Homo sapiens: one gene and its partner. The protein of the gene in region 1 interacts with the protein of each later gene in a pairwise test. Each region holds a gene or a part of one and is shown on either strand. Other genes may lie near its edges. The genes, in order: PLD2 and UNG.

Region 1 (3,817 bases):
TGGCTGAAGTGGGGGGCCTCACCTGTACGGTGGTGCACTGCCCTCCTGGAAGTGTGAAGGGGAGCTGATTGGCCGTGCTGGTAGACTTGGGAAGCAGGTAGGGGTATGTGGGAGTCTTGTACTTGGCCTTGGTGGTCTGACGTGGAGGGATGGCAGAGTCAGCAGGAGGTGCCAATCTGCCCTGGCTCCCTCCCTACCTCCAGCCCCTATCGGAGGGAATGAACACCTTGGTGAAGTTCCAGCGCTGGATGAAGTGCCGGGCAAGGTCCCGGGCCGGTAGGCCATGGACGACCACCCCAACGTCCCGCCATGGCATCCGAGGGGTCGTCTCCCTGTCAATGAAATCTGGGGGGTCCCAGGAGAGTCAGGGGAGATGTCAGGGCTGGACTCCTTGGGACACTTGGGGCAGGGAGAAAGAGCCTGCCAGAGGGAGGGCTGTACCACCGTTGACCCCTCTCATCCCACTCTCAGTACCAGCCCCAGCTTCTGACCCTGCTCTCAGCTCTCTGGGGCTTTGGCGGGTGGGAGGCTTCACCTTCGAAAGGCCGGTCCAGCTGCACCCAGTCCTTGGTGATAAGATTGCTGTAGTCCTTGCCCAGCCAGAAGAATTGGTTGTGAGAGAGGTCTGGGGTGGCTGGTGAGTCTGGGCGCGGGGTGGGAGGCTGTAGGGGGAACACACCCAAGCCAGGGGCAAGGGGAAGTCATGGGGCTGTACAGAGCCAGGGCCAAAGAGAGGAGCACTGAAAGAGTGAGAGAGACCGAGAGGAAGAATGAAACAGAGGGTCTGATTCCCCAGCCCTCCCCTCCAGTTGCCTTTGACACTTTTAGAGGAATGGGGTGATGGTCAGTGAAAATGGGGAAAGGACTGGGTGGGTGACAGCACTTTTTTTTTTTTTTTTGAGACAGAGTCTCGCTCTGTTGCCCAGGGTGGAGTACAATGGCACAATCTCGGCTCACTGCAACCTCCGCCTCCTGGGTTCAAGTGATTCTCCTGCCTCAGCCTCCCGAGTAGCTTCAATGACAGGCAACTGCCACCATGCCCAGCTAATTTTTTGCATTTTTAGTAGAGACAGGGTTTCACCATGTCGGTCAGGCTGGTCTCGAACTCCAGACCTCAGGTGATCCACCCGCCTTGGCCTCCCAAAGTGCTGGGATTACAGGCATAAGCCATGGCTCCCGGCCAGTTACAGCACTTTCAAAGTGGGTTCTTGGAGTCCCAGAAAGTCTGAGGAACCCTGAGGTTGGCAGGGCCTGGAATGACTGAGGGGGTAAGGCTGGAGCTGGGAAATGGTGTTGATTGAGCTTATCTGAGTTTGGGGGTGCTCAGGAAGGCCTCAGGGGGATTACCTGGGAGGCAGCTGATTCAGAGGAGTCTCCAAGGTCAGTCAGTCGGTAGTGCAGGTCATCCCAGCGGCCATAGGCAAGGTCCAGTCCCCCCAGGAATGCTACCACTTGGTCCACCACCAGGAGCTTCTCATGATGGGCCCACAACGTCACTTGGTCTGGGTGACGCATCACCTGGAGCAGGCATGGAGGGTTCATGAGGGTGGGTTTAGGTGAAGGAAAACAGGAGGTACTGGGAGGGAGAGAGGAAAGATGGAAAGATGAGACCATCAGGGAGCGGGAGCGCTGGGGGCTGGGACAGTGTGGGGAGAAGGGCTGTCATGTGGGAGGGTCTCTGAGGCCGAGAGTCACCTTTATGTTGGGGTGCAGCAGCATCAGCGCCCTCTTGCTATAGCCACTGTTGATGCCCAAGGCCAATTCCACTTCTTTAAACAGCAGAATAGACACACGGACACCCTCCTCCTGGTGGTGAGTTGGGGAATCAGATCCTAGTGCCTCTCCCAGAGTAGCCCCTTTCCACACTCCCAAACCTTTTCCACGTGTGTCCCTCCAGCTTGTCTGGAGATCCTAGAGGCTCTGCCACATATGCCCTGCTTTGCTGCTTGCCACAGACTTAGACTAAATGTCATCTGTGTGCTCACCCACTCACCCATCCACACATCTATCCACCCACCCTTCATCATCCATCCATCCATCTTCCCAAGCATTTACTCATCCCTTTATGTACCGTCTATCATTCATCCATCTACCTGCCTACCCTCCTAGCCCTCCACCTTTCCAACTCATATCCTTCCATCCATCACCCTTTCTGTCCTCTATCCATCCACCTGCCCAGCCACCCTGCATCATCCATGCATCCTTCTTCCTGTCCATCAACACCACACATGCCCCCTCCATGGCAGGTACTGTGCCTTGTAGTGGAACAGTGATATTAACTAGTCCAGTGAGAGAGATAGACATGTATACCCCCAGATAACACAATAAAGTATTATGTATACTGGGAGGGAAGTCTCTGCCAGGTGGAGGGAGCATGAAGAGGAAGTTGTCAGTTCTCCTTAGGGCAGAGGGAGAGGGCGGAGGTGATGTCTGACAGGTGCTGGGCCAGGATGGACACTTTTCCCTCCCCTGAAGCCTCAGACTGCCTAATTCTCCCACACTGCAGCCCTGCTAATCAACCTCCACCCACAGGCAACCCCCTCCCCCTGCGGCCTGACCACTCTCCTCACCGCCTTCCTCTTGAGCATAATGTCCAGTCTCCAGTCATCTGAATGGGCCGGACGCTTCAGGTAAACCTCAGGACTCAACCTGGGATTCAGGGCAGTGGATTAGGGGCAAACGAAGCCCCAGACCACCAGCTGCACCCCCCTTCTCCTCCTAATGCTGATCTGCCCCAGGCTCTATCCTGCCCCATGTTGTTGGGGCCTTTTCCCACTCACCACCAGTCTGTGATGAAAATCTCCTCTTGAGCTCGAAGGATGGCATCTGCCACAGCAGCAAAGTAACCTGCCCCATTCACAAACCTGGGGGGAGGCCAAGCCAAGGAGGTCAGGGGAGTCAGAAGCCAGAAAGCTCTGGAGAGTGAAGACCGGAGGACAGTCGTGGGTCAGAGGTGACAGCAAGGTCAAAGATCAGAAATGATCAGAGAACACAAGTGGTATCAGACACATCAAAATAGTGTTTGCCCATATGCGCTAAATACAAATAAAAATTACAAAAAGACACAATAACCTAATCAACTAAAGAACAGGAGGATTAATACATCATACATAAAGAACACCAATAAATCGACAAGAAAAAGTCACATGAGCCAACTGAAAAATGAGCAAAGAGTAAGAACTGACAGTTCACAGAGAAATTAAAATGGCCAATCGTGGCAAATGTTCAGTTTCACTAGTAAACAACGAAATTAAAATGAAATTACATTTAAAAAATCCATTAGATTGGTAATAATTCAAATCACTGGTAACATTCAATATCAATATTCAATATGCTGGGGAAGTGGGTATTCTCATAGACTATGGGAATATAACTTTTAGGAGACAATTTGGCAGTATCAAAAAATATATATATAGCTTTTTGGAGATGGTGTCCCGCTCTGTCACCCAGGCTGGAGTGCAATGGCATGATCTTGGCTCACTGCAACCTCCGCCTCTTGGGTTCAAGCAATTTTCCTGTCTCAGCCTCCCAAGTAACTGAAATTACAGGCGCCCGCCACCACGCCTGGCTAATTTTTGTATTTTTAGTAGAGACGGGTTTTTGCCATGTTGGCCAGGTTGGTCTTGAACTCCTGACCCCAATGATCTACCCGCCTCGGCCTCCCAAAGTGCTGGGATTACAGGCATGAGCCAAAGCGACTGGTCAGCAGTATCAAAATATTAAATGCATATACCCTTTAATATCATTAAATATACATGGTAATTACATGTCTAGGAATACATCTAATACAATGCCTAGGCAAATGTTGTGTTCATCA
Region 2 (3,817 bases), on another chromosome or scaffold:
TCCCAGCTACTCAGGAGGCTGAGGCAGGAGAATCACTTGAACCCAGGAGGGGGAGGCTGCAGTGAACTGAGATCACGCCATTGCACTCCAGCCTGGGCAACAAGAGTGAAACTGTCTCAGAAAAAAAAAAAAAAAAAAAAAAAAGAGGAATAGTCAGTGGCCAGGTGTGGTAGCTCACGCCTGTAATCCCAGCACTTTGGGAGGCCGAGGCAGGAGGATCGTTTAAGTCCAGGAGTTCAAGAGCCAGCCTGGGCAACGTGGTGAAACCCTGTCTCCACAAAAAAAAATACAAAAATTAGCCAGGTGTGGTGGCGCACGCCTGTGGTCCCTGCTACTCAGGTGACTAAGGTGGGAGGATTGCTTGAGCCTGGGAGGTTGAGGCCGCAGTGAGTTGAGATCAAGCCAGTGCATTCCAGCCTGGGTGACAGAGCTAGACCCTGTTTCAAAAGAAAAAAAGCAATAGTCATACATCACCTAATGACAGGGATGCATTCTGAGAAGTGTGTTGTTAGGCAATTTCACTGCTATCCGTACACCACAGGGCATCTTTACACAAACCCAAATGGGATAACCTACCACTACACACCTAGGCTATATAGTGTAGCTTATTGCTCCTGGTCTACAAACCTGTGTAGCATGTTACTGTACTAAATACTATAGGCAACTGTGACACAATGGTAGGCATTTGTGTATCTAAACATAGAAAAGATGCAGTAAAAATATTTTTTATATATATATATATACACATATATATATACGTATATATATATGTGTATATATATATATGTTTTTTTTTTGAGATAGAGTCTCACTCTGTTGCCAGGCTGGAGTGCAGTGGCATGATCTCAGCTAACTGCAACCTCTGCCTCCCAAGTAGCTGGGACTACAGGCACACGCCGCCACACCTGGCTAATTTTTTGTATTTTAGTAGAGACAGGGTTTCACTATGTTGCCCAGGCTGGTCTCAAACTCCTGAGCTCAGACAATCCACTCGCCTCGGCCACCCAAAGTGCTGGGATAACAGGTATGAGCCACCACACCCGGCCAGAATATTATAATCTTATGGGACCATCGTCATATATACAGTTTATGACTGAAACATCATTATGTGGCAAATGACTACTTTGATTTTTTTAAAATATCAACTATAGTTATTTTAACAGGGAGATATAGACCATTTTTGTTTTCCTCTTCTTTTCTGTATATAAAAACTAACGAACAAATCACTGTTTCTCAAAACACTCTTGCCTTCAAGGGGCTCAGTCCAGGAGGGGCGATGAGGGGTGAGGACTAAAGCCAGGCAATCCAGTGTGGTTAAGAGTACAGAGCCTGGAGCCAGACTGCCCGGGGTCGAGGCCTACCTCTACCCTCAGTAGCTGTACCACAGAGAAGTTGCTGCAACTCTAAGCTGCTTCAGTTTTCATCTGTAGACTGGGAATAACAATACCGCCCAGCTTATGAAGTTACTGTGACCAATCAAATGAGGATCACAGGGGCTGAGTGTGATAAGAAGTCATGCACACCAAATGCTGAACACACACGCAAGCAGCACAGGCCCCTGTAAATGTCAGCCCTGCAGAGCTCTAAAGAATCCCAGAAGAAAATGACCTCTACACTGTAGGCAGAGAAAGCAGGATATGCAAAGGCAGGGAAGTGGGGCACCGTGAAAAAGTAAAGGGGAATGGGTCAGCCTAGGGATCGGAGTGCAAAGAGGGATAGAGTTAAGTCTGGGAGGCCGATTGGGGGCCACCCCTCTACCCCCCTGAAATCAGATCTTCAGCCTAAGGCAAGGCCTTCCAGGGAGAAAGCATCAGAACCCTCCAGGCAAGATCAGGTGAGGGCCTGAATGAAGGCAAAGGTGGTCAGGCAGGGGTAGATTTGGAGGGGGAAGAAAGAACACAGATATGAATGACTGACTGACTGGGAAGGTGGAAAAAAAGGACAGAAGAGGGGAGAAAGAGAGGTAGGCAGGTGTCAGTAATAGATCTGGCTGGACAACTGGGCAGATGATGGTGCTTTTTGCTGCTAGGGAGTGCAGAGGAGGAAGTTTAGTGAAGCATGGATGAGAAAAGGAGAAACTTCGTTTGGAAAATGTTGAATTTGGCATGTTCATGGGGCAGTAGTAACAAGGCACTCTATAGATCAGAAGAGACACTGGGCTGGAGATATGCAATTTGGCTTTAATGACCAAGCTACTTTAACAACTGTTTACTTTCAGACCAAACCATGATTAAAGATTACCAATATACTGCGGAAGAGCAACACTGGCCGTAAACCTCCCTAAGGGATAGAGATTAGCAATTACTCTCACGCACACTTCTTACATACCTAGATGATCACATCTTAGCAGTTCATACCAGTCAGATCTTAGGTCACTCATACAAGTGTATGCCTACCTCAAAGCCTTTCTGAGAGTTAAGTAAGATTCTGCATGCAAAGTACTCAACCTGGTCGGGTGCGGTGGCTTACATCTGTAATCCTAGCACTTTGGGAGACCAAGATGGGAGGATCGCTTGAGGTCAGGAGTTCAAGACCAGCCTTGTCAACATGGTGAAACCCAGTCTCTACTAAAAATAAAAAATATTAGCTGGGTGTGGTGGCAGGCAACTGTAATCCTAGCTACTCAGGAGGCTGAGGCAGGAGAAGTGCTTGAACCCAGGAGGCGAAGTTGCAGTGAGCCGAGATCATGCCACTGCACTCCAGCCTGGGTGACAGAAAGACTCCATCTCAAAAAACAAAAGTGCTCAACCTAGTACCCACACAAGGTAGGGGTTAAATATACGTGCACATTTCTGATACCCCCGTTACCTCCTGCTGATACACCAAAAACTATTGTCAGGTTACCTCTGCTAAGCCCTTGCCTTCGATCATTGAAGCATTTACTCTATAATTTCTCCCCCACCCAATGTCTCTCCCATTTGCCAGGGATGAACACACCCCTGGCTCGTCTCCTTCCCACCCCCTATCTCTCCCTCCTCCACTCTGCGGCTCTCCATCAAGCCTCCATCTCTAGTCCATCACGGTTCTCCTGGAGAAAGATGATGGTGACTCATGCCTGAAGGGCAGCAGTGGCGAATGAGAAGCAGTAGACTGGGGTGTTTTGGGAGGCAGAGTTGATGGGATTTACTGATGGGATGGAGGATTCAAGGATGACTTTTAGGTCTCTGATTTCCACAACCAGGTGTAGAAGTGCTTCAGTGAGTGAAGGGAAAGAGGGAGGTAGCAGATAGGGGGAAGATGTAGGGAGGGGAGCCACTGGTTTGGTCGTGTTGGGTATCTGCAATTAGACCTTGGGGTTAATAATGATCACCGATAGGCCGGGTGTGGTGGCTCATGCCTGTAATCCTAGCACTTTGGAGGTTGAGGAGGACAGATCGCTTGAGGTCAGGAGTTCAAAACCAGCCTGGCCAACATGGTGAAACCCTGTCTCTACTAAAAAATAAAAAAAAATCAGCCGGGTGTGGTGGCGGGCGCCTGTAGTCCCAGCTACTCGGGAGGCTGAGGCAGAATCACTTAAACCCAGCAGGCGGAGGTTGCAGTGAGCCAAAATCATACCACTGCACTACAGCCTGGGCAACAGAGCGAGACTCCATCAAAAAACAAAAAACCCAGAAACAAAACAATAATGATCACTGATAGTATTTTCATGGGCAAGTTAAATTTGTGATTGAGTGGAATTCTTTGTGTTTTCTATATGTTCCCAAATTTCTTGGAAGCCAGAAACATGCCTCATCCATCACTTGTTAAGTGAATGGTACCCAGGGACTTGTATCTTGTAGACACCAAGTTCATGCCTACAGCACCAACTGCATTCAGT

What was found.
Region 2: the proteins of PLD2 (region 1) and UNG interact in binary tests that used the Homo sapiens proteins (3 or more experiments, as listed by UniProt).

The regions. Positions count from the first base shown.
Region 1 is NC_000017.11:4,813,465-4,817,281, reverse strand, and holds part of PLD2 (phospholipase D2), read right to left. Parts: intron 2,865-3,817; coding exon 2,781-2,864; intron 2,650-2,780; coding exon 2,571-2,649; intron 1,807-2,570; coding exon 1,696-1,806; intron 1,519-1,695; coding exon 1,348-1,518; intron 741-1,347; coding exon of another isoform or gene 702-740; exon of another isoform or gene 663-701; coding exon 536-662; intron 346-535; coding exon 227-345; intron 207-226; coding exon of another isoform or gene 137-206; coding exon 23-136; intron 1-22.
Region 2 is NC_000012.12:109,103,846-109,107,662, reverse strand, and holds part of UNG (uracil-DNA glycosylase), read right to left. Parts: intron 1-3,817. UniProt on the Homo sapiens protein: Uracil-DNA glycosylase that hydrolyzes the N-glycosidic bond between uracil and deoxyribose in single- and double-stranded DNA (ssDNA and dsDNA) to release a free uracil residue and form an abasic (apurinic/apyrimidinic; AP) site.